Homo sapiens: one gene and its partners. The protein of the gene in region 4 interacts with the protein of the main gene of each other region in a biochemical or structural test. Each region holds a gene or a part of one and is shown on either strand. Other genes may lie near its edges. The genes, in order: XPO1, CPEB1, TNPO2, EIF4E, GIGYF2, HHEX and LRPPRC.

Region 1 (3,500 bases), on a different chromosome or scaffold from region 4:
GGTCAGGAGTTCGAGAACAGCCTGGCCACCATGGTGAAACTGTCTGTACTAAAAATACCATAAAAAAATAAAAGATACAATAAAAATACTGGGCATGGTGGCATGTGATTGCAATCCCACCTATTCGGGAGGCTGAGGCAGGAGAATGGCTTGGACCGAGGAGGCAGAGGTTGCAGTGAACTAAGATTGCGCCACGGCATTCCAGCTTGGGTGACAGAGCGAGACTCCGTCTAAAAAAAAAAAACAAAACAAAAAAAAACGCTAAGATCTATAGTTATATTACATTTTGGAGTTAATAATTTTCTTCTTATCAACAGGTTTAACAATGCATGCATCAATTCTTGCATATATGTTTAATTTGGTTGAAGAAGGAAAAATAAGTACATCATTAAATCCTGGAAATCCAGTTAACAACCAAATCTTTCTTCAGGAATATGTGGCTAATCTCCTTAAGTCGGCCTTCCCTCACCTACAAGAGTAAATATACCTTTTAATAAACGTAGAATGTTCCTGGTCGGGCACAGTGGCTCACACCTGTAATCCCAGCACTTTGGGAAGCCTAAGGTGGGAGGATTGCTTGGGCCCAAAAGTTGGAGACCAACCTAGACAACAAAACAAGATCCCGTCTCTACAAAAAAAAAAGTAGTCAGAAGTGGTATGCATCTGTAGGACCAGCTGTTGGAGAGGCTGAGGCGAGAGGGTTGTTTGCATCCTGGAGTTTAAGACTGCAGTGAGCTATGATCGCACCACTGTACACCAGCCTGGGTGATAGAGTGAGACCCTGCCTCTTTAAAAAAGCAAAAAAAAAAAAAAAAAAAAAAAGGCCACGCACGGTGGCTCATGACTGTAATCCCAACACTTTGGGAGGCTGAGGTGGGTGAATCACAAGGTCAGGAGTTCAAGACCAGCCTGGCCAAGATGGTGAAACCCCGTTTCTACTAAAAATACAAAAAATTAGTTGGGCATGGTGGTGGGTGCCTGAAATCCCAGCTACTTGGGAGGCTGAGGGGGAGAACTGCTTGAACCCAGGAGGCAGAGGTTGCAGTGAGCCGAGATTGTGCCACTGCACTCCAGTGTGGGTGACAGAGCAAGACTGTCTCAAAAAATAAAAAGGCTGGGCACGGTGGCAAACGCCTGTAATCCAAGCACTTTGGGAGGCCTAGGCGGGCAGATTACCTGAGGTCAGGAGTTTGAGATTTGCCTGACCAACATGGAGAAACCCTGTCTCTACTAAAAATACAAATTAGCCGGGCATGGTGGTGCATGCCTGTAATCCCAGCTACTTGGGAGGCTGAGGCAGGAGAATAGCTTCAGAGGTTGCGGTGAGCCGCGATTGTGCGATTGTACTCCAACCTGGTAAACGAGCAAAACTTTGTCTCAAAAATTAAAAAAAAATTCTTGATTAAAAAAAAAAAACATTATTGGGACGCTGAGGCAGGAGAATGTCTTGAACCCGGGAGGCAGAGATTACAGTGAGCAGAGATCATGCCACTGTACTCCAGCCTGGTGACAGAGCAATACTCTGTCTCGGGGGAAAAATAAATCATTATTTAATCATTGTGTTTTGATTTGCAGTGCTCAAGTAAAGCTCTTTGTGACAGGGCTTTTCAGCTTAAATCAAGATATTCCTGCTTTCAAGGAACATTTAAGAGATTTCCTAGTTCAAATAAAGGTATGTATTTATTTGCTCTTGCAGAAATATTAGGGGTAGATGTGACCACTTTTATGTTACATTGTAGAATTTTTATCACTTGATTTGTCATGCCAAATAAATGGGGTTTCAAGATAATACGTTTACACAATCTCTGTAATCAAAAAACCTGAGACTGGTAATACAGTGAAAAACTAAAGTCCAATAAGGATAGATATGTTTGAGATGTTATTCGGATAAACTTATTACTAATGTAATTCATTTTAGGTAGTCTTAAATGTATAATGGAATATTGGGTAAGAAAAACGTTGGTAGTTCTTTTTATAATTTTATACCAATTTTGTTAGTTGAGGGAACTTGTGAAAGTTACTAGATAGAATGTCTTTCTTCTGCTGTTATACAGTGCTTTATTCATACTTTTGGGAAGGGTTTTTCTTTGAACATCTTGCTTTAAAGAAATTTGGAAGTACTGTGAAACCCTAAGTAGTTGATGAATAGTTTATCCATGATTGTTGAATAAGAATTAGTCTCTTAGCTCTTAAATATTTTCTCCAAAATACAAAGGTTTTTTTTTTTTACTGTAAAAATATTAGCCAATTTTTAAAAAACTAATGAAAGTTACCTAGGCTGGGCGCAGTTGCTCATGCCTGTAATCCCAGCACTTTGGGAGGCCAAGGTGGGTGGGTCACCTGATGTCGGGAGTTTGAGACTAGCACGGCCAACATGGTGAAACCCCCGTCTCTACTAATAATACAAAAATTAGCCAGGCGTGGTGGCGCACAGCTGTATTCGCAGCTACTTGAGAGGCTGAGGCAAGAGAATTGCTTGAACCCACGAGGCAAAGGTTGCGGTGAGCCGAGATCACGTCATTGCACTCCAACCTGGGTGACAAGAGTGAAACTTCATCTCAAAAAAAAAAAAAAAAAGTTAACTGATAGCTACGAAGTCAATGATAATATAACTAAACTTAATTTAATGACAGTTATTAATTAGCCTTAGGAGAAACATCTTTCTTGGTATCTTGGCATATGAAGAATTTTTAGCTGGGCACAGTGGCTCACACCTGTAATCCCAGCACTTTGGGAGGCCGAGGCAGACAGATCAGTTGAGGTCAGGAGTTCAGGATCAGCCCGGCCAACATGGTGAAACCTCATCTCTACTAAAAATACAAAAATTAGCCAGGTCTGGTGGCAGGTGCCTGTAGTCCCAGCTACTCGGGAGGCAGAGGCAGGAGAATCACTTGAACCCAGGAGGCAGAGGTTTCAGTGAGCTGAGATCATAACACTGCACGCCAGCCTGGGCGACAGAGCAAGACTGCCTCTCAAAAGAAAAGAGAAAAAAGTGTCTGGGTGCAGTGGCTCATGCCTGTAATCCTAGCACTTTGGGAGGCCGAGACAGGTGGATTGTCTGAGCTTGGGAGTTTGAGATCAGCCTGGGCAACATGGTGAAACTACGTCTCTAGTAAAAATACAAAAAATGAGCCAGATGTGGTGGTGCCTGTAATCCCAGCTGCTGGGGAGGCTGAGGCAGGAGAATTGCTTGCATCTTGGAGGAAGAGGTTGAGATAATGTGCTGGGGCTACAGAACAAGACTCTATCACAAAGAGAACAAAATTTGTGTGAATACATAGTAGGTGTATATACTTAGGGGATGGGATGCATGAGATACTTCGGTAGAAGCATACAATGCATAATAATCACATTGAAGACTATTTACTGTAAGGTATCACACCATTTTTTTTGTTTTTTTTGGGGGGGCACAGTCTCGCTTTTATCACCCAGGCTGGAGAGCAGTGGCGTGATCTTGGCTCACTGCAACCTCCGCCATGCAGGTTCAAGTGATTCTCCTG
Region 2 (3,500 bases), on a different chromosome or scaffold from region 4:
GCCTGCAAGTACCAAGACAAGACAAGATTGATCAGATAAGGAAAAAAAAAAAAAAGGAAGCCATAGTCTTACAAACCAAATGGACATTTCAAGTACAATAAGAGACCAACACAGCAGAGGTAAGAGTGTATGAATTTTACAAATAGTACTAGTCTAGAAATGAGAAAACGTGGGTTCAAGTTCTGTCTCTATTCCCTGCTCACAGTATAAAATTAGGGTAATCACTTTCCATTCTAAACTTAATTCTCCTAGTCCATGAAAAGAGGATGTCAGAGATTATATCTGGCTTTGGTGTCAACTCCAAGTTATATGTAGGAGACAGGTCTCTAACACCTTTTGAGCTTCACAACAATTCCAAGATTACAGCTTTAAAAAAAAACAAAAACAAAAACAAAAAGCCTCAGGAGAAAGGGCAGACACATGGGAGACAGACAGATGGTGTCAGGGCCAGAACCCAGGAGCACAAAGCCAGAATGCAGAGAGCACAGGTGTTAAGTAGTAAGAGATTAAGTGTTCTGTAAAAAGACACAAAAAAACCAACCTGCCCTTCACAGTAACTGTTCTCTTCCAACAGAGGAGAGCTACTCCCACACTTTTATCAAAGGGGATTGTAGGAAGTGGGGCTAAATCTGTCAGGATGGTACATAAAGCAGCATATTATGCTGGCCAAGAATAAAGAAACAAGTAACACTCTTAGTCAAGTTACTCCTAAAATCAATAGCTACTTGCAACCAAGACCCGTTTTTAGCATACAAACCAACCTTTAGACCTGCCCTCTGGGGATTCTCCTGTTACCTCAGGGGAACTCATCACGAATGCCTTAAATAAATCAAAACAAAGAGTGTTAACTCACTATAATTTAAAAGGACTGTTCCACCATTCAAGAATACAAAAAAAAAAAAAAAGAATTCAAAGGTTATCCATGCCTAAGTGTTCTCCTGAACTACTGAAAGTAAAGCTCAACCCCAGTCAGTCAGGAATCCTCCCAGGTCCAAGTTAATCAAAACCACATTATATATTAGGGTGGCAAAATAATCCCTAACATTGGGCTTTAAAATGACACCTAATAAAATTCATTGGAAATTACATCTACAATGTGAATTTAGCACTCTGAAATTTGGATACTAACTTTTTACAGCAAGTCAGATAATTTTCCTATGAAAATATGAAATATTACATCATACATGTTTTAGTTCAATCTTTTTCAGCTAGTTTACTATAATTGAGAAATGCACTGTTGGGGCAGGTCCTATCTTCAACATAAAAACTTTCTACGGAATCTGTGCTCACAGAAGATGAGACGCTCTAAAGCAGGCTGCAACAACGGCAGGAAAAAACTAAGGGCATTTCCAAAACTGCAATGTTGGGTGCAAAGGAAGCAAAGTTCATGGTGACCAAAAAGCTTTAAGAGCCTGCATGGTGGCTCATACCTGTAATCCCAATACTCTGGGAGGCTGAGGCAGGAGGATGGCTTGAGCCGAGGATAAGCCTGGCCAACATAGTGAAACCCCATCTCAAAGAAAAAATTTTTTAAAAAGTAGCCAAACATGTTGAATGGCTGTAGTCCTAGCTACTTCGGAGGCTGAGGCTGAAGGATCCCTTAAGCCAGGGAGCTTTGAGGCTGCAGTAAGCTGTGATTGCACCACTGCCCGCCAGCCTGGGTGACACAGTGAGACCTTGTCTCAAAAAAAACCTTAATAATAAAATCTTAAAAGGCTTAAGAAACGGTAAAGGGTGCAATCAGTGCTTCTGGGTCTTAATTCAAACAAGAGAAGCAAAATTCTTACATAACCCCCTCTACCATAACTTCTAGGTGCAAACCACGTCCTACCCTTTAGCCTCAGGGGCTTTCTGGCAAATTCTCCCCAGAGTCAGTACAGTTTATATACCGCCTAGGAAAAGCACATTTGCAGAACAGGATGAGATTAGCACAACTTCTCCATAGCAGAGAAAATAATTTGTTATTTGATCCCATGATTCTTTTACTGCCTCCAATACTAGCTACTAAAAACAGTGTAAACATTAATATTTAGGTTTGGTGTGCATTTCTGTCTCAAACTGTAAGCCAAAAGTACTAATACTCTAATTTTCCCTTAAAATAAACATAACTTTAGAAAATAATCATTTAGCTAAGGGACCTGAAACCAATGAATGAGAAAGCCTGCACAGACAACACCTAACGTTATAAATGCAAAAATAACACCAGCAGAGAGCTACTTTAGTCACCTCACCCTTCCCCTCCCCAGCACACTCCACACCCCCAAATCCACAAACACTGAACTCATAGCTGAGTGCCTTGCTGGTAAAGGTTGCTAAGAAGCAGCTAGAGGCAGGTAACATTTTAAAGTTTTCATCTTTCCAAAAACTTTCCAGGATACAGGTAAGAAAGCTATCTAGCTTGTGTCTGAGTTTACATTCTCACAGAAAAAAATTCTTTGGCAAAAGCTCTGAATATGCTTTTTACTCCTTTAAATCCTTGGGAATGAGGCTGGGCACGGTGGCTCACACCTGTAATCCCAGCACTGTGGGAGGCTGAGGCGGACAGATCACGAGGTCAGGAGTTCGAGACCAGCCTGGCCAATATGGTGAAACCCCATCTTAGTAAAAATACAAAAATTAGCCGGGCGTGGTGGCGCGTGCCTATAGTCCCCACTACTTGGGAGGCTGAGGCAGAAGAATTGCTTGAACCCCAGAGGCGGAGGTTGCAGTGAGCCGAGATTGTGCCACTGCACTCCAGCTTGGGCAACAGAGTCTCCATCTCAAAAAAAAAAAATCCTTGAAAATGAAATATAGGAAAAAAAAAATGTACATACCCCTTTACATCCGTAAGTGTGGCTGTGTACAATGCTGGGATTCTAAGTTTTATCCAGAATTGAAACCCCAGCCCCTCATTTCTGGGGCAGGGCTATTTTATGCCCCGGGAGCTTATCTCAGATTTTACCACAGACTGCTTTAAAAAAATTTTTTTTAACCTTTATTAATTCTTCCTGGAAATCTAAGAGACAGCATTATGGGAATCTTAGCTAAGACAGACAAGGTGAGATTTAGTAAGCTCCATGTTACTTTTACAGGTCTTAAAACAATTATATAATTTCAAATTTGCCTTGCCTCAGACAGAAAAAGTTAGTACTGAAATTTTAACTGTCCTGAAAAAAAGGAGCCTTTTGTGCAGAGGGTTGGGAGGGTCACCCCCACAGTGGGAGGAGCCTGCCTTCCCCAGACCTCCGGCTCTCAGGATCAGCTAACTGCTCTGACATACATTGTGGAATGATAGACACAGCACATTCCTCCTAACATCAGCACTGCTGTACTAACACTCAGAAGACCCACACTGACTTCTACAGCAACTGGGATTCCTGCCAATGCAGTTAAGGTTCACTTTGCCTATAAATGTGACCAGCTCCCAGACCACCACCTTTTTTCTAGAATGTACGCCACCAATAACCCCTTGATCCTTTGACATAACAGAACACACATAATAGGCTGGGCTACGGCACCAG
Region 3 (3,500 bases), on a different chromosome or scaffold from region 4:
GCCTTGCACTGTGGGGCTCCAGGGGTTCCTTTCAGGCCCAGGAACCAAGGGGAGAATTGAGATCTCAGAGCTGTTTGGAGTGGGGTGAGTAGGCCTCCAGGGAGAACTGAGGCATTGGTGTGGCTAGTAATGTGGGCCAGCCCTACAGTCTCATGCCAGCACAGGGCTCAGAGATCAGGCGCACTCACCCTCAGCAATGGCGCCCAGCACCAGGATGCCCGACTCCTTGACCACCCACTCGGGGTGGAAGAGGAGGCCTTTGAGTAGTGGGAGTAGGTGGGGCAGCAGTTCCTCCCGGAAGACATTGGCGAGGACGTCCAGTGCAGCCGCTGAGCACTTCCCTGGGGAAGGGGGAACAATGGGGAGGCTCAGGGCGGCCCCTCAGGCAGGTGGCCGACCCTCCTTGACTGCACTCCCAGGATCAGAGATCATGCTCAGAATCTTCACGATCAGCTTCTTTTTTTTTGTTTTGTTTTTTTGAGACGGAGTCTCACTTTTTCCGCCCAGGCCGGAGTGCAGTGGCGCTATCTCGGCTCACTGCAAGCTCCGCCTCCTGGGTTCATGCCGTTTTCCTGCCTCAGCCTCCCGAGTAGCTGGGACTACAGGCGCCCGACACCACGCCCGACTAATTTTTTGTATTTTTAGTAGAGACGGGGTTTCACTGTGTTAGCCAGGATGGTGTTGATCTCCTGACCTCGTGATCCGCCCGCCTCAGCCTTCCAAAGTGCTGGGATTACAGGCGTAAGCCACTGCGCCCGGCCACGATCAGCTTCTAATCAGCTTCTGCCTCAGCTTCTAGTCACCTCCCAAGAGGGAGTCCAGGGCTTGCCACCCCACCACCACCCCCAGGCAGGGGCACACACTCAAATTCCAGTCGGACAGAGCATCATCATCATCGTCATCCTCCGCGTCCTCGGAGCCATCAGGCCGCTCAGCCTCGTGGGGCAGTGTGACCGTGCGTGACTTGTGGAAGCGTGGCTTGATGTCCTGCTCACTGTCGGGGACAGCCTCATCCTCCTCCACATCCCCCTGGGGGACAGGCAGACTGTTAAGTACTTTGGGGACCACAGCCGCGACACCCACGCCCATGCCCACCCATGCTGGGTGGGCCCTGCCTGACCTTGAGCAGGATGATGTCAATTTCCGAGTACTTCATCCCATTCACCAAGATGGGGATCAACCTGCACAGAGAGGGACTGTTTATGGGGATGCAGGGGCCGTGGCAAAAGTTGGGGGGAGGCACAGCTTGGGGAGGAGGCAAACAGGTGCCAACAGAGTGACCAGCCCCCCAATCAGCCACAGAGCAGACCCTGCAGAGCATGATGGTACTGCTAGGTGCAAATTGATCCATTTCCCTCTGGGGAATTATCGGAATCTAGTCTCTGCCGCTATGATTAGGATATAAATGATACCACTCCTGCCTCCAGAGAAAGGTTTTTTTTTTTTTTTCTTAAGAAGCAGGGTCTAACCCTGTGGGCGGCAAGCCACCCAGGCACCGAGGCAAGAGACAGAGGACACGAGCTGTTCCAGTATAATAAAATATAAAACAAGAATAGTTATACCAGATATAGATCTTAGATATGATTATATATGAATATCATTAATCATTAGTTTGTAGCAATTACTTTTTATTCCAATATTATGATAATCCTCGCTCTATAATCATAGCCTAGGAAAAACCAGGCCATACAGAGATAGGAGCTGAGGGGACATAGTGAGGTGTGACCAGAAGACAAGAGTGCGAGCCTTCTGTTATGCCCGGACAGGGCCACCAGAGGGCTCCTTGGTCTAGCGGTGACGCCAGCATCTGGGAAGACGCCCGTTACCAGGCGGATCATGGTCCAGCGGTAGCAAAAGGTGTCAAGGAACAACACCCGCTACTTAGCAGACCAGGAAAGTGGGGGAGTCTCCCTTTCCCCGGGGGAGTTTAGAGAAGACTCTGCTCCTCCACCTCTTGTGGAGGGCCTGACATCAGTCAGGTTTGCCCGCAGTTATCCGGAGGCCTAACCGTCTCCCTGAGATGCTGTGCTTCAGTGGTCACACTCCTAGTCTGCCTTCATGTTCCATCCTGTACACCTGGCTCTGCCTTCCAGATAGCAGTAGTAAATTAGTGAAAATACTAATAGTCCCTGATATGCAGAAATAATGGCATACGCTGTCTTTCTCTTTGTCTACTCTCCCTCTCTGCCTCGGCTGCCAGGCAGGGAAGGGCCCCCTGTCCAGTGGACACGTGACCCATGTGACCTTACCTATCATTGGAGGTGACTCACATTCTTTACCCTGCCCCTTCTGCCTTGTATGCAATAAATAACAGCGCAGCCAGACATTTGGGGTCACTACCGGTCTCCGCGCATTGGTGGTAGTGGTCCCCCGGGCCCAGCTGCCTTTTCTATTATCTCTTTGTCTTGTGTCTTTATTTCTACACTCTCTCATCGCCGCACACAGGAAGAGACCCACCGACCCTGTGGGGCTGGTCCCTACGTAACCCTATCACCCAGGCTGGAGTGCACTGGTGCGATCACAGCTCACCACAGCCTCATGCTCCTGGGCTCATGCAATCCTCCTGCCTCAGCCTCCCAAAGTGCTAGGATTATAGGCGTGAGCCATGGCACTCAGCCTGCAGGAAAGCTCTTGACCCAGGCCTGGCCACTCAGTGGATTATAGACCCCTGAATACACTGAAAATCTTGGTACAGTGCCTGGTCCCTAGCACAACATTAAGGCAGGGACATGCGGTCCTATTCCTGGCCACTTTCCTGAGATAGGGCAGAGACTAGCCAGAGTAGGGGAGCAAACAGACTAGGCAGCCAGCCCCTCAGCTGCAGCCCAGAGTTGTAAGTGACAGAGCCTTCATCACCTGCTCATCTAGGTCTCATCACTCCCCAGGAGCCGTCTGCCCAGCCCTAGACTGTTATCAATAATTTGGGGCCGGGCACAGGGGCTCACACCTGTCATTATAGCACTTTGGGAGACCAATGCAGGAGGATTGCCTGAGCCCATAAGTTTGAGACCAATTGGGACAATATAGTGAGACCTCACCTCTAATGAATGATAAATAAATAAATAAATAAATAAATAAATAAATAAACATACAATATGCTGGGCGTGGTGACTCACGCCTGTAATCCTAGCACTTTGGGAGGCCAAAGTGGGCAGAACACAAGGTCAGGAAGCTGAGGCAAGAGAATCGCTTGAACCCGAGGGGCGGAGGTTGCAGTGAGCCGAGATTGTGCCACTGCCCTCCAGCCTGGGCAGCAGAGTGAGACTCCGTCTCAAAAACAGAAATTTCAAAATAATAATAATAATGATCTGGGGGCTGGGTACAGTGGCTCGCACCTGTAATCTCAACACTTTAGGAGACCAAGACAGGAGGACTGCTTGAGGCCAGGGATCCGAGACCAGCCAGAGCAACTTAGCAAGACCTCATCTCTACTAAAACTTAGAAAAGATTAGCTAGGTGTGGTGGGATGTGCCTGTAATCCCAGCTACTTGGGAGGCTGA
Region 4 (3,500 bases):
TTTACTAATGTGGCTTCCATTATGACCAATACTTTTCAAACTAATCTCTCACATAGCTCCTTTTGAACTCAAGACTCACACATAAAACTGTCTGCTGGTCATGGGTCATCCAAGTGAAAATAGAACCCTCAACCTTAGCATATCTAAAACTAGTCTCATAATCTAACTTTCCCTTCAAACTTGCCCCATTCACAATTTACCTTGTGGCCTAACTCAGAAAACCTAGGTGTTAGAAAGCTTACCTGTTCTGTAGGGGATGTTTAATATAGTGTTCTGGGTTAGCAACCTCCTGATTAGATTCCGTTTTCTCCTCTTCTGTAGTCGGGGGATTAGGAGTAGGGGTGGTTTCCTAGTGGAAAATAATATAAAACATTATTTTAAATGTCTTAACACATCTATGACAGCAATATTCTAACTAAACCTGAACTGATATGCTGATAATTTTTTTTTTTTGAGACAGAGTCTCTCTCTGTTGCCCAGGCTGGAGTGCAGTCGTGCGATCTTGGCTCACTGCAACCTCCTCCTCCTCCCAGGTTCAAGCAGTTCTCCTGCCTCAGCCTCCTAAGTAGCTGGGATTACAGATGTGTGCCACCATGCCTGGCTAATTTTTGTATTTTTAGTAGAGACGGGGTTTCACCCCGTTGGTCAGGCTGGTCTTGAACTCCTGACCTTGTGATTCACCTGCCTTGGCCTCCCAAAGTGCTGGGATTACAGGCGTGAGCCACCACACCCGGCACTAGTAGTATTTTTTAAGAAGAAGGAATTAAAGCAGATTGCTTCATAAAACAGACCACAGACCAAACTCTAAAGAACCATTCTCTATTCTCATATCTCTTCATTAAGAGCAAAGAGCAAACGGTTTCTCAAATTTGAAAATATAACAGTATTTATAGTTATCCTTCCACTTGCACTTTTTTTTTTAAATAGCAGGAAGACTGTCACAGACTATGCAACAAAGTTGGGAAAATCTTCTATCTTTCTTAACATACCATCATATTAAGATACTGCATATGGTACTGAAGGGGGTATCAGGAAGGATACAGGATGGAAACTAAAGTTTCAAGAGTATAACAACTGTATCACTGGGCACTGTGGTGCGTCTCTACAATCCCAGCTACTCGGGAGATTAATAGGAGGATTAATAGGAGGATTGCTTGAGCCCAGGAGTTTGAGACCAGCCTGGGCAACACGGCAAGACCCTGTCTCAAAAACAAACAAAACAAAACAAAACAACATTATGATGACAAAAAAGCTTTGTAAAGTGATCAAGCCAATGATGCGCAGGTCTTACCTTCATGGCATACTGTTTACCCTATCGTAACCTAAAAGTTCGGCAACTTAATATTTTCAATGGAACCTAACAAGATGGACATTGGCTTGAACTTAAATCTTCTTTTAGGCTAGACAAAATTAACACTGTCATCTAAAAATATCAGAAAGAAAAGTAGTCTGGGGGCAGTAATTTAAAATAGGTGTTCACCACATTCTTCCATGTAGCTCTTCATACTATCATAAATTGTTGTCAACAAAAGAAGAGAGCCAAAGAAAGGCACTAGGACAAAGACTGATACCAAAAAAAGGGCAATGCAACAAGTGTTTGGATATCAGACTGAAGCAGCAAACAACAGAGATCTATGTTAACATAACAAGATATGTAAGTCAAATATTTATTGTCTAAAAGAATGCAGAGCAGAAAGGTGGTAAATATTTATTTGAAAGAATATGGGTTTTTTTTTTTTTTGTATTTTATTTTTCTTAGAGATGGGGTCTCACTCATAGCTCACTGCAGCCTCAATCTCCCTGGCTCAAGCAATCTTCTTGCCTCAGCTTCCACGGTAACTGGGACTACAGATAGGCACCATGATACCTGGCTAATTCTTTTTTATTTTTAGTAGAGACAAGGTCTCACCATGTTGGCCAGGCTGGTCTCAAACTCCTGAGCTCAAGCAATCCTCCCACCTTGGCCTCCCAAGGGATATGTTTTTTCTTATCAACATATGACATGTACAAGAATTTCTATTAGCCTATAAAGTCACCCAGAACGGAGACCATGTCTTGATTTTACTCAATAATCACAGTACTTAACCCAACAGGAACTTATTAACTTGATTACTTAACTGAATAAATTTAAATGTTTACACAGAATGATTAAGGCCTGAAAATTGACATACAGTAAGTAATGCCTTAAAACCAAACATTTTTATCAACATTTACTTACCAGTAAATTTAAGTGTTCAAACAGATAATTACTGAATGACATTTCCTATCCCACTAGCTTAAAATTAATGATGGGTTTCCAGGCAGACAGTGGGAGTCTCGATGAAAACAATGAGAGACTGGCAGGCAGGTAGGCTTTGGGGGACAGGGTACCAGAGAAAAACTGCTGTAGATGAGAAGTGGGCTCCTCAATATATGTAAAAATCCCTCACAGGTTTTTGGCTAACTCCTAAACTGGCACTTTCAGAGCGTAACTCTGGTTGGCCTAACAGAGAAGAACAGCTAAGCCAAAACTTGCAACTGCCCAGTATTTGTGAAACGTAAGCAGAACGGGTGCAGGGACTTATGTCTGTAATTGCAGCACTTTGAGAGGCCAAGGCGAGAGGACTGCTTGAGTCCAGGAGTTCGAAAACAGCCTCAGCAAGTGAGACCCAGTGAAGAAAGGGGAAGAAAGAAAAAGAAACAATCCTCTTTCTCTCTCTCTCTCAAGTCTTTGGACATACAGGAATTAAAAGCAAGTTATCACTCAGGAAAAACATATTCAGTTCCTAGAATTTTAAAGTGTTATTTTGAATTAAAATAAAAGTCCCACTGTAAGTAACTGATTACTATAGTCTTCATATCAAGAACACATAATCGGCCGGGCATGGTGGCTCACGCCTGTAATCCCAGCACTTTGGGAGGTCAAGGCAAGTGCACCACCTGAGCTCAGGAGTTCAAGACCAGCCTGGCCGACATGGTGAAACCCCATCTCTACTAAAAATGCAAAAATTAGCTGGGCGTGGTAGCACGCGCCTGTAATCCCAGCTACTGGGGAGGCTAAGGCAAGAGAATTGCTTGAACCCAGGAGGCAGAGATTGCAGTGAGCACAGATCGTGCCACTGTTCTCCAGCCTGGGCGACAAGAGCAAAACTCAGTCTCAAAACAAAACAAAAAAGGACACATGATTTTGTACTTTTCCAACAACTTAAAAAAGGAGCTACACATTTTTAAATATGTGTGTATGTATGAATCAGTAAGTATACTAATTTAAAATCTTTAGTCTTCACTTTTAAACATACTAGATTTTAAAACGAATGATGTGAAATACCATAAAAATTTTTATTGGGCATAGACAGTCATCTTTTCGTATGATCTATATGGGAACTAAAAAATATTTCAAGAAACAAGTTCTATTTTAAGGTATCTAACCTTATTTTTAAGATTGCTTCCTATAGACACTAAATAGTTTTAAGTTTACATTCAGTTTAAAAACAAAACTCTACTGCAAAATCCTACCATAT
Region 5 (3,500 bases), on a different chromosome or scaffold from region 4:
GAATGAACTTGTGATTATGTTTCTGACCTAGGTTTAAAGCTTATTCTTCAAATAAGGTTAAATCACATTTTCAAAAGGGAAAAAATGAAAGAATAAACCCTTTCTTGTTAGGAAAAACACTCATTGTTGGGGAGGGAAGCACATATTTCAAGTGTGTAATTTTTACACATTTATAAATCTTAAAGAATGCTAAAAAAGATTCAGAGATTTAGAGGTAGACAAAACTGAATGAAACCCTCATTTCTGCAGTTGAGCGCAGGTGCTTCCCATTAAACTACACTATTTGCCCCAGAAAAATAGAAAAGTGATTTCAATCAACTGAATAGATGTAGGAAATTTTTATGTTGCAATTTTTTCTAGTAATAAAACTGTGACAGCATAAATAATATGAATCCACCCCCACATTTTTTAAGCCAGTTTATCTTTTTCATTTAATCCCTATTTCCATCAAACTTTCCCTTATTTCAGTCCCTGTGTGCCTTTACTCAACAGAATTCTTACCAGGACTGTGAGGTCGCCACCTCTCTCCATCCCTCCTTGATCCAGCTAGTCGCCAACCTCCATCTTCATCTTCTCCATTTTGTTCCTCTCTAAAGATGCGCCAATTTTCACTTTCTGAGCGTATAAATTCATGCTTTCTCCCTACTGATGTTGGTCCACCTTCCTCAAAATTTGGTCTCCCTATAAAGAAAATAATATGGTAAGTAAACATGAGCCTCTGCCAGTATAGGCTTTGAAAACAAACTTCACAGCTCAAATCAAGCTTTCCTGCAAATGGGTCCATTTCAATATTCAGAAAAAAATCACTAAAATAACAGTGGGTATATGTATATATTATTAGACACATTTCTTAAAGCCATGTTCAGAGACTGGGCAATTTTTTTAAACAAAAATATTATGTAAAATTTTTTTTGAAAAAGCGTACAATGAAAAGTCCATCTTCCTACACAAGACCCTCAGAGTCGTACTCCCCAGAAGGAACCATCACCAAGTTTCTTATAAAGTCTTTCCAAACACTGTCCATGGGTACACTTACACATGTATACATAGCTCCCTCATCCACACACACAAACGCCACCCTCAGGATGTTATAAATGTTGTTTTGTTTGCTGTTTTCACTAACAGTGTATCTTGCCAATCCTTCCTTACTAGCACATACTTTTTAAAGTTATAAGATATTTTTCATCATACAACATACTTTATATAACCAACACCTACTGGTGATTCTGCCTAAACATGATATCTGTACATTTCAGGCCGTCTTTCATTCCAAAACAGATTATAAACTGAAAAGCAGGCCGCGTGGTGGCTCACGCCTATAATCCCAGCACTTTGGGAGGCCGAGACAGGTGGATCACGAGGTCAGGAGTTGGGAGACCAGCCTGGCCAATGTGGTGAAACCTCATGTCTACTCAAAATACAAAAATTAGCTGGGTGTGGTGACAAGTGCCTGTAATCCCAGCTACTCAGGAGGCTGAGGCAGGAGAATGGCTTGAACCCAGGAGGCGGAGGTCGCGGTAAGCAGAGATCGCGACACTGTACTCCAGCCTGGGTGACAGAGCAAGACTCCGTCTCAAAAAAAAAAATTGAAAAGTAGTATAACCTCATTTACTCTAGCACCTAATACAATACAGGCATACCATAAATTGCTTTTGGACAGAATTTAAAGCTAAGCTATGTCTAACCTAATGTCTCAAAAGTTACATTAATGTCAAAAGAGAGCCTGGTATACCAAGTAAACTAAACTGGTATTTTAAAAGGACAAGATCATTCTAAATTGTGCAAACAAATTCTTCAGTCACCATTCCACATGTGCTAACATATATAACTCATAACATTTATAAAATCTCACATCAAAATAGTTGAAAATCCAGAATAACATACATTGATGTCCTCAGTTTATAACAATAAAAGTTCAAGTTCTCATAATGACAAACTCAATCCTTTTAATTAATCCATACTAAAAGTGAAAAAATAATTGAACAACAGCATATGAAAATGAAATTCTAATTTCTGGTCATTCTGTTATATTCCATCTTACATATATTGAGATTCAGCATCCTGCTTGTCCATATGGTTGTTAGTCTGCTACTAGGTATCATTCTACTGAAAGATAAAATATCTTGGGAGAATGGAAGACATGATCTGCTGCTTTCTTATTGTGGTGGACAGCCTCTAAGAGCTCACCAACAATCCCTGACTGCTGATCTCTGTGGAATCCTCTACCCCCAATTATAAGCTGGACTAACAGAATGCAGCTGAAGTGATGAGATGCCACTTAAAATATTAAAGAAGACTGTAGTTTCCATCTTGGACACTTTCTCTGAAGGACACTAGTTGCCATGTAGTGACACAGACCTCGTGGAGAAGCTTGCATGGCAAAGAACTGAGACTTACCACCAGAAACATGAGTGAGTCTGGAAGTGGATCAAACCCCAGTTGAGCTTTGAGAGACTGCAGCATGGGCTGACACCTTGAGTGCAGCCTTACAAGAACCCTGGGCCAGAACCACCCAGCTAGGCTAAGCTGCTTCTAGATTCCCAACCCACAGAAACTGAGATAATAAATGTTTGCTGTTTTGAACCACCAAGCAAGGGTTTTATTATCTATGACCTTGCTCTTACCTGCAGGACGTGTCTGGAATGTCAGAACTATATTCTGGCTTTCCTTGGTTTATTAGTCCATTTTGCATGGCTATAAAGGAATACCTGAGGCTGGGTAATTTATTAAAAAAAAAAAAAGAAGAAGAAGTTGTTTATTTGGCTCGTGGTTCTGCAGACTATACAAGCATGGCACCAGCATCTGTCTGGCTTCCAGTGAGACCTCAGGAAGCTGTTACTCATTGTGGAAGGTGAAGTGAGAGCAAGTATGTCACATGGTGAGAGAGGGAGCAAGAAAGATGACAGAGATCCCAGACTCTTGAACTCATTACAGTGGGGAGGGGATGAGGGATCCACCCTCATGACCCAAACACCTCCCACCAGGCCCCACCTCCAACACTGGCGATCACATTTCAACATGTGATCTGGAGGGGACAAACATCCAAACTATATCACTTGGTTTACCAGAGAAGTCATAATCTAAATCTATTGTAGTTATTATGTAATATCTGATATATCAAAAACCATATTGCAGCTTTTATAAATTATTTTGTGGCCAGGCGCGGTGGCTCACACCTGTAATCCCAGCACTTTGGGAGGCTAAGGCGGGCAGATCACGAGGTCAGATCAAGCTAACACGATGAAACCCCATCTCTACTAAAAATAGAAAAAATTAGCCGGGCGCGGTGGCGGGCGCCTGTAGTCCCAAGCTACTCAGGAGGCTGAGGCAGGAGAATGGCATGAACCTGGGAGGTGGAGCTTGCAGTGAGCCCAGATCACGCCACTGCTCTCCAGCCTGGGTGACAGAGCAAGACTCCGTCTCAAAAAAAAAAAAAAAAAAAAAGAAATTATTTCGTGTAAGTAGCTAGAACCTCAGGCACATGCCACCACACTCAGCTA
Region 6 (3,193 bases), on a different chromosome or scaffold from region 4:
GTTCTCAGCGCAAACCACCTCCCCGCTCCCCTCGGCCAGGGCCCCCCATCCCCCCACTCGGACTTCCCCACCCCGGGCCCCGCCGCGCGGAGCGGGTTCCCGAGCCCCGGCCGCCGAGGGATGACGCGGTGTTGACTCAGCCGGTCAAGGACGGCGAGGGCCAGCCCGGCTGCCGAGGAGAATCGATGGGGTCCGGACGGCCCCGCGCTTCACGGCGCAGCGGGCCTGGGCCTCGGCTCTTCCCGTCGCCTGGCGTGCCCGGGACTCGAACCCATCAGGCTCAGAATCCGCCGGCAGGAGCAGAGCCCCAAGGCAAACGGCCCGGGAGAGGCCCCAACCCACGTTCCAGGCACCCACCCGCGGTCCTGGGACTCGGAACGAGAGCCCCAGCAAGATCCAGCCCCAGTCACTTCCTGTCCCCAGAGCCCAGCACCGCGCCAAGCACCCAGGAGGTCAAGAAAAGGTGTGCAGACTTTTTAAAATCAAAGAATTAGACTTGCAACGAGGTCAGTCGTCCCACGGACGGCTTTATTTTATAGTCAAGTTACTTATTAAAAAAAAAACACATTTTGGCCATTTTTTTTACAGTGAACAATTCTATATACACATTATAAACATTGTTTGATATAAAACAGTATCTACAATCTACTTACATTTAATTAACCTGTGACTTCTAGTTCATCTGCGATTAACTTTAGTCAGGTCAGTTTCTCTGCTTGAATTGGGAGGTACTATCCCCTTAACACCTTGGTCAAACAGGTACTAAGTGATAGTGCAAAACAAGCATTTAAGATTCTCATCAACCATATCTCTGACAAAAAGAACACACATCTCTGAGACAAGAGCTCTGAAATGTTTTTGGATTTGAGACAGCAGTATAAGAATGTCATATAAAAGTAAAGAATGTTTTCCTTTTAAAATACTCCAAGGCTGCCTGAAATGTAGGCACCTCTGGATTTGGGGTACCCCTTTGCCTTTCCATTAAGTGGGAGATAAACAGATTACAGAAAAGTCGTTCAAGAAGGTCCTATTAAAACCTTTAAAGCTATAACTTAAAAATTTAACAAAAAGTTCAAAATTAATTTTTTATAAATAGTGAAAACCACTAACTGTTTTTTTAAAGGGGGAAGAATTTAATCACTATAATGTCACTTTATCAAAACAACCTAAGAGCAGTACATAAACTATTTGTTAAGTCAAAATTAAGGTCTCCATGTAGGTTTGTTAATTGAGCAGTGCACCAAATATTTTTAGGTTTCCAGAATACCAGAGAATTGATTCCCTTTCTTATATAGCCTTCCAGTTCTTCTATGAAGATTTTCTGTAGCAAAACATTATTCCTAAATCCAGTTTTCTGAACATGCCAATGCCAGTGGTCATCATCCAGCATTAAAATAGCTTTTATCGCCCTCAATGTCCACTTCCTGATCAGAATCCTCTGAAATCTCTGATTCAAGGTCTTCCTGGGAGGCAGGGGAGGGCGAACATTGAGAGCTATCCAAAGAAGCACCTTTATTCTGTTCACTGGGCAAATCTTGCCTCTGATCACAGGAACTGTCCAAACTTTCCAGTTCTTCTTTTTTATTGCTTTGAGGGTTCTCCTGAATAAAGGAAATGAAAATGGAGATTGGAAGGATCATAAAATATGGATAGGTGAGAGGAATAAATCAAAATGTCTCTTCATCCTATTCCATCTTTTAATTTTTAGTTTACTGAGTGTTTTCAGTTTATAATCTTATTCAGGAGATACATACTTGTGCTTTTTGCTCACTTTGGAAGAAAAGTTTCTGTCATATCAAAGATTATATGCTTAAAAGATGAGAACCAGTCATGAACATAAGGGCAGATACATTATACCAATTGAACACAAATTCTGGTTACTTAACACCAGCCCAGACCCATGGTTTCAATATTCTCAAAAGTTTAAGGGGGAAAGAAAATCAGATCACTACAGATACACCTTAACTTCATTCTTTAAATATTTAAACCTTGCCAATTAACAGTCTTTCAGACATTTTAAAAATAAGAATGCTAACTGGTGAATTAAGAATAAAGTTTCAATTATTAGACTGGATCTTTTTTCATTCATTTTCTGGAGTAAATTTATAAACATCTACATGTGTAAATGTTTAACAAGTTACAAAATCATGGCAAAGAAAAAAAATGTGGATCTGGAAGAATGCTGCCAACTGAGAAGGTAGACAATTAGCTACAATTTACTTAAAATCTGGGGCAAATTTCTGGGAAATATCCCCATATTACATAGAAACCACTATTTTTAAGGTCTCTGGTAAACTAGAGTCAAGCCTTTGACCAAGAACTATTAAGTATATAAGCTAGTGAATTTTTAATCCTATACTTGTCTAAAATGCATATAAATACTACATAGAAATATTACAACATCTATTTGTTATATAGTTGCAAGCCTTATAGTCTCAACAAATAGATGCACACGGTCAGAAATTGAGAGTGGATCTGCAAATATTTAAATCACATTACAGTAATGAAGTTATGGGAATTTTATTTTCTATTTCAAAATATTCTTTGGGACACTTTCTTTTTAATGAAAAAGTAATGATCAATAAATTTTAAAATCCACTTTGCTTTAAATTTCTCCACTCATTGTTTCAAAGTATTTATTATAAACCGTATATACAATGACAAGTGAACAATTCAGCAATTATCAGATAACTTTGGAGAGTATATCCAGATTAGGACATCAAAAATGAATGTTTAGCTTTAAGTCAATAGACCTTCTTTTAAAAACTAAATTAGCCTTTACTTTTTATCACATATTGCGAAACAAGGTCACTGGAAGAAAGACTGTCAGAAAGTTTAAGCTACTTTCCAAACAGGCTTGAATATTTTCTTACAAGTTTTATATTTCATTTTAAGAGCTGGCATTAGATAGAAAATAATTTTTAAACTCCCTGACATTTAATTCTTCTAAAAAACAGTGCAAACAAGACTTAAAGGTGTTTGTTTCTTTATATTTACCCTTGAGTTCTGCCTGGTTTTATTATGGCTGTGTAAATAAAAGAAACAATTTTCTCCCAAAGATAACTGCTTAAGTCATTTACTGTCAATTACTTTATCTTTCCTGCGTTAATTAGATAAACAACATATGGGATTTATAAAACAATTAGCTGGGAGTTTTACTAGCCAGTGTGTGAAAACCCAAGCATAATTGATA
Region 7 (3,500 bases), on a different chromosome or scaffold from region 4:
TTTCGAGGTAAGAATAACATTTAGTAAATTACTCTTCAAAAATAAAAATATTTTCCAGAGCAGTTACTTCAGATCAGATCAAGCCCAGTTTCTTTTTTCTTTTTTTTTTTTGAGATGGAGTCTTGCTCTGTCTCCCAGGCTGGAGTGCAATGGTGTAATCTCGGCTCACTGCAACCTCTGCCTCCCGGGTTCAAGCAACGCTCCTGCCTCAGACTCCCAAGTAGCTGGGATTACAGGCACCTGCCATCATGCCCGGCTAAATTTTTATATTTTTGTAGAGACCGGGTTTCACCATGTTGGCCAAGCTGGTCTTGAACTCCTGACCTCAGGTGATCTGCCCACCTCAGCCTCCCAAAGTGCTGGGATTACAGGCATGAGCCACCACGCCCGGCTTCAAGCCCAATTTCTAAAAATTCAAATAAAAGAAAGATTTGTGGAACAAATGTAAAAGCTCATTATAAAAATATTAGTATGCTCTACCTCATATACTACAGATTTTTTTTTGAAGGGATAGACAAATGTATTTTAAGAACTGTCTACAATAATTTTCTCTAATTTAAACCCCACTTAACAAACAAAAAAGGAGTAAAATGACCACTTTAGCATCTCAGCCATCTATCACTTAAGAACCAAAACCTTAGGTTGAACATTACCCAGCTCTGGCATGCCCTGTCACAAGGGCACTGAATACTGCCTCTGTAACTGGGAGATCCTTAGTTTTCATAAATCCAAGAATCTTGCTGCAAAGGAAAAACGAAGATACTCATTGAAAGTATTTATAAGAACACTCTTTACAACATGTACAGAATTAGGCCTTGAGTTACTTTTGTTTTTAAAATATAATAGTAATATACATTTGTTTTAGAAACCACAAAGAAAGAACTAATCCCTTTGATCCCCTTCCCACAAAACCCCACTCTCTAATGTATCAACAGTCTTGAAGTACTATCGATACAAATACTAGATTTTTAAAAATCTGATTATCTGATTTGTCTTACACTACTAATTACCCTTTTAAAAGCATAGTTTCATAAGATTCTTTTAGATAAAAATGAAATTATGTATTCCAATTTATCCCTTATTTTCCAAACCTTCCATTCATAAGTAGTAATAAATTTTACATAAGCAGAGAAATGGTGCAACTGATTTTCTACACTACTTCCAGTTTTATAAATGAATACAGCTTAAATGGTTAAGAACATTTCCCTTAGGAAATATTTAAAAAAAAAAAAAAAAAAGCAAAGTCAGCTTTATAGCTCAACAACTTTATACCTCTCTCCAGTAAATCAAATTTTTAATTAAAATAGCAACTTTTACTTATCTTTTCTCTCTTACACGATAATTTTATATTTTATGTAAGTCAGATTACCAGATTTTCTAGATTAAAACAGTTCTGAAACAATTTCCTCCATTAGGAAGAAGCTTTAAAACAAAGAGTGAACAGACATTAGATTTACAAAATGTACAAATTTGTTCGCTTAAACATGTTCATACAGATCCATACCTGGCACCTTCAATATCTCCTACATTACAATAAGAAGCAATCAATCTCTGGTATGTCACCTGTCAATGAAATGGGCCAGTTAATTTTAAATATACTTTTTTTTCTGAGTAAAGAAAAAAAATGGTGGATGTGAAAATATATTCACAATAGCAACTACTTACTCGATTTGGTTGAATGTTTGCTTCCTCCATTTTTGCCAGGAAATCAGTTGGTGAGAATTTATATTCATTTTGAAGATAGACTTTAAGTAAAGCATTATAGTGACTCACATCATACACAGCACCTACAAATGAAATTTAAAATGAATTTTTAGAAAAGCATTGAAAATCCTATGCTTTAAAGTGGACCTAAATTTAACAAACAAAAAGAGTAAAACTATCACTTTAGCATTTCACCCATCCATCTTGGCGCTCAGACCTATCTACACAGATACTCTGTCACACAGAGCAAGCTAAGCATGTAAGACAGTAATTACTGAGTTACTGTATAGTTACAAGTAACTGCCTATTCGGATATTAAAAGGCCTCTTACTTATGAAGCACAAAATTATCTTCCTGTTAGAAAACGCTGACAATATCCCTATATTTAAAAGTGACTGTAAGATTTTTCTATATAAAGCAGTCCTCACATTACAGACACACTGTGAAGAATGGATTGTAACTTCAGTTCTTTCACACAGTAGGACTGTGCTGGCAATTCTGTCACTCAAAGCCTTCATTTTAAGGATGCATTCCATTTTCAGCTGATGAACATGATCTATGGTATGCTCTTGTTAATTATCTGTATTCTAATGACCTTTGTTTTCTTTGTATCCCTACTGTTTAGGGCCACATCAAATAAGGTTACCACACAGCCTTACTCTACTGAGTCATGACATCATGGTCTTTATATCAATTTTGTGGTAACATGTCTCACTACATTTTCATGCATTAAATTTCACATCTTTATTCAACTGCCTGTGACCATACAGGCCTATGGTTAGTATCTGGGGGTGAGAGTATGTGATTTTAGGCAGCAGAGAGCTGTTCCATTAAATTAATACACATTTTTATCTTAACAGATATGTTTCTTTCATACTATGTTTCAGGCACTATGCTAAGTGTTCCACATATAGTGGCTCACTCAAACTTCACAACAACTTTGAGACACTATTATCAGCCCCATCTTACAGATAGCTCAGATCTGTCAACAGCTCATTCTGTAATTTTGGACAAGTTACTTAAGCTAAAAGATCTCTTGTATCTTTATAAATCTGTAAACAAGAGTCAAACTGGCAAACTACAAGGTTTCTGGCAATATTAATTCAACAAGTATGTATCAAATGCCATTATACACAAAGCATCATGCTACTGTCAAACAGGAAAATAAAGAAGCCATGGATTCCATCCTTATAAAGCAGACACTTATACAGGAGAGACCTATCTGTAAAGAATGTTAATATAATAACACATTGTTAATCTTTATATGGAGGAATTAATGTTATTACTGCTGTGTAATGCTTTTTTCTATTTTAGAATGTAACCTTTTCTGCATATATTTCTCCCAGTTCAATGACTTACTGACATACAGAAATTTCTAATTTTTAGAGATTCAATATTTTAGCTTTACTTTTCTGCTCCTTTTATACTTATAAAATCCTTTTCCATTCTGAAAGTCAACATTTATCTATATAGTTTTTAACTTAAAAAAAAATCAACTTATCAAAATGTATTCTAGATGTATTCAAAACTGTGAAGGAAGAATCTGTCTTTATCCTGTAGTTTTTTTCACATAGGTCCTACTCACTTTTTGAAGGATAGTCCTAAATATTTTATTTATCTGTAGCTATACTTTCTTGGATTCTTTTCTCTATTTTCTTTTATAACTAGAAGAGGTATGGATTCTTAAACATTTAGTGAGTCCAGCTAATTACTGTGAGCTGATTTTCTGGGATTTTGCAGATTAAACAATCACATCATCTAAAAATAATAACTTCTTGTATTGTTTCACATCTTAT

The links.
Region 1: the proteins of EIF4E (region 4) and XPO1 form a complex in vitro, tested with the Homo sapiens proteins (one study listed by BioGRID).
Region 2: the proteins of EIF4E (region 4) and CPEB1 form a complex in vitro, tested with the Homo sapiens proteins (one study listed by BioGRID).
Region 3: the proteins of EIF4E (region 4) and TNPO2 form a complex in vitro, tested with the Homo sapiens proteins (one study listed by IntAct).
Region 5: the proteins of EIF4E (region 4) and GIGYF2 form a complex in vitro, tested with the Homo sapiens proteins (one study listed by IntAct).
Region 6: the proteins of EIF4E (region 4) and HHEX form a complex in vitro, tested with the Homo sapiens proteins (one study listed by BioGRID).
Region 7: the proteins of EIF4E (region 4) and LRPPRC form a complex in vitro, tested with the Homo sapiens proteins (one study listed by BioGRID).

What each region holds. Positions count from the first base shown.
Region 1 is NC_000002.12:61,479,357-61,482,856, reverse strand, and holds part of XPO1 (exportin-1), read left to right. Parts: exon of another isoform or gene 1-230; intron 231-317; coding exon 318-477; intron 478-1,575; coding exon 1,576-1,672; intron 1,673-2,273; exon of another isoform or gene 2,274-2,532; intron 2,533-3,500. UniProt on the Homo sapiens protein: Mediates the nuclear export of cellular proteins (cargos) bearing a leucine-rich nuclear export signal (NES) and of RNAs.
Region 2 is NC_000015.10:82,640,864-82,644,363, forward strand, and holds part of CPEB1 (cytoplasmic polyadenylation element-binding protein 1), read right to left. Parts: intron 820-3,500; exon of another isoform or gene 762-819; intron 3-761; exon of another isoform or gene 1-2.
Region 3 is NC_000019.10:12,710,433-12,713,932, forward strand, and holds part of TNPO2 (transportin-2), read right to left. Parts: intron 1,182-3,500; coding exon 1,121-1,181; intron 1,030-1,120; coding exon 864-1,029; intron 342-863; coding exon 189-341; intron 1-188. UniProt on the Homo sapiens protein: Probably functions in nuclear protein import as nuclear transport receptor. Serves as receptor for nuclear localization signals (NLS) in cargo substrates.
Region 4 is NC_000004.12:98,901,634-98,905,133, forward strand, and holds part of EIF4E (eukaryotic translation initiation factor 4E), read right to left. Parts: intron 350-3,500; coding exon 243-349; intron 1-242. UniProt on the Homo sapiens protein: Acts in the cytoplasm to initiate and regulate protein synthesis and is required in the nucleus for export of a subset of mRNAs from the nucleus to the cytoplasm which promotes processes such as RNA capping, processing and splicing.
Region 5 is NC_000002.12:232,784,331-232,787,830, reverse strand, and holds part of GIGYF2 (GRB10-interacting GYF protein 2), read right to left. Parts: intron 682-3,500; coding exon 502-681; intron 1-501. UniProt on the Homo sapiens protein: Key component of the 4EHP-GYF2 complex, a multiprotein complex that acts as a repressor of translation initiation. In the 4EHP-GYF2 complex, acts as a factor that bridges EIF4E2 to ZFP36/TTP, linking translation repression with mRNA decay.
Region 6 is NC_000010.11:92,692,955-92,696,147, reverse strand, and holds the end of HHEX (hematopoietically-expressed homeobox protein HHEX), read right to left. Parts: intron 1,602-3,193; coding exon 1,380-1,601; 3' UTR 501-1,379; downstream 1-500. UniProt on the Homo sapiens protein: Recognizes the DNA sequence 5'-ATTAA-3'. Transcriptional repressor. Activator of WNT-mediated transcription in conjunction with CTNNB1.
Region 7 is NC_000002.12:43,975,490-43,978,989, forward strand, and holds part of LRPPRC (leucine-rich PPR motif-containing protein, mitochondrial precursor), read right to left. Parts: intron 1,788-3,500; coding exon 1,666-1,787; intron 1,564-1,665; coding exon 1,505-1,563; intron 741-1,504; coding exon 654-740; intron 1-653. UniProt on the Homo sapiens protein: May play a role in RNA metabolism in both nuclei and mitochondria. In the nucleus binds to HNRPA1-associated poly(A) mRNAs and is part of nmRNP complexes at late stages of mRNA maturation which are possibly associated with nuclear mRNA export.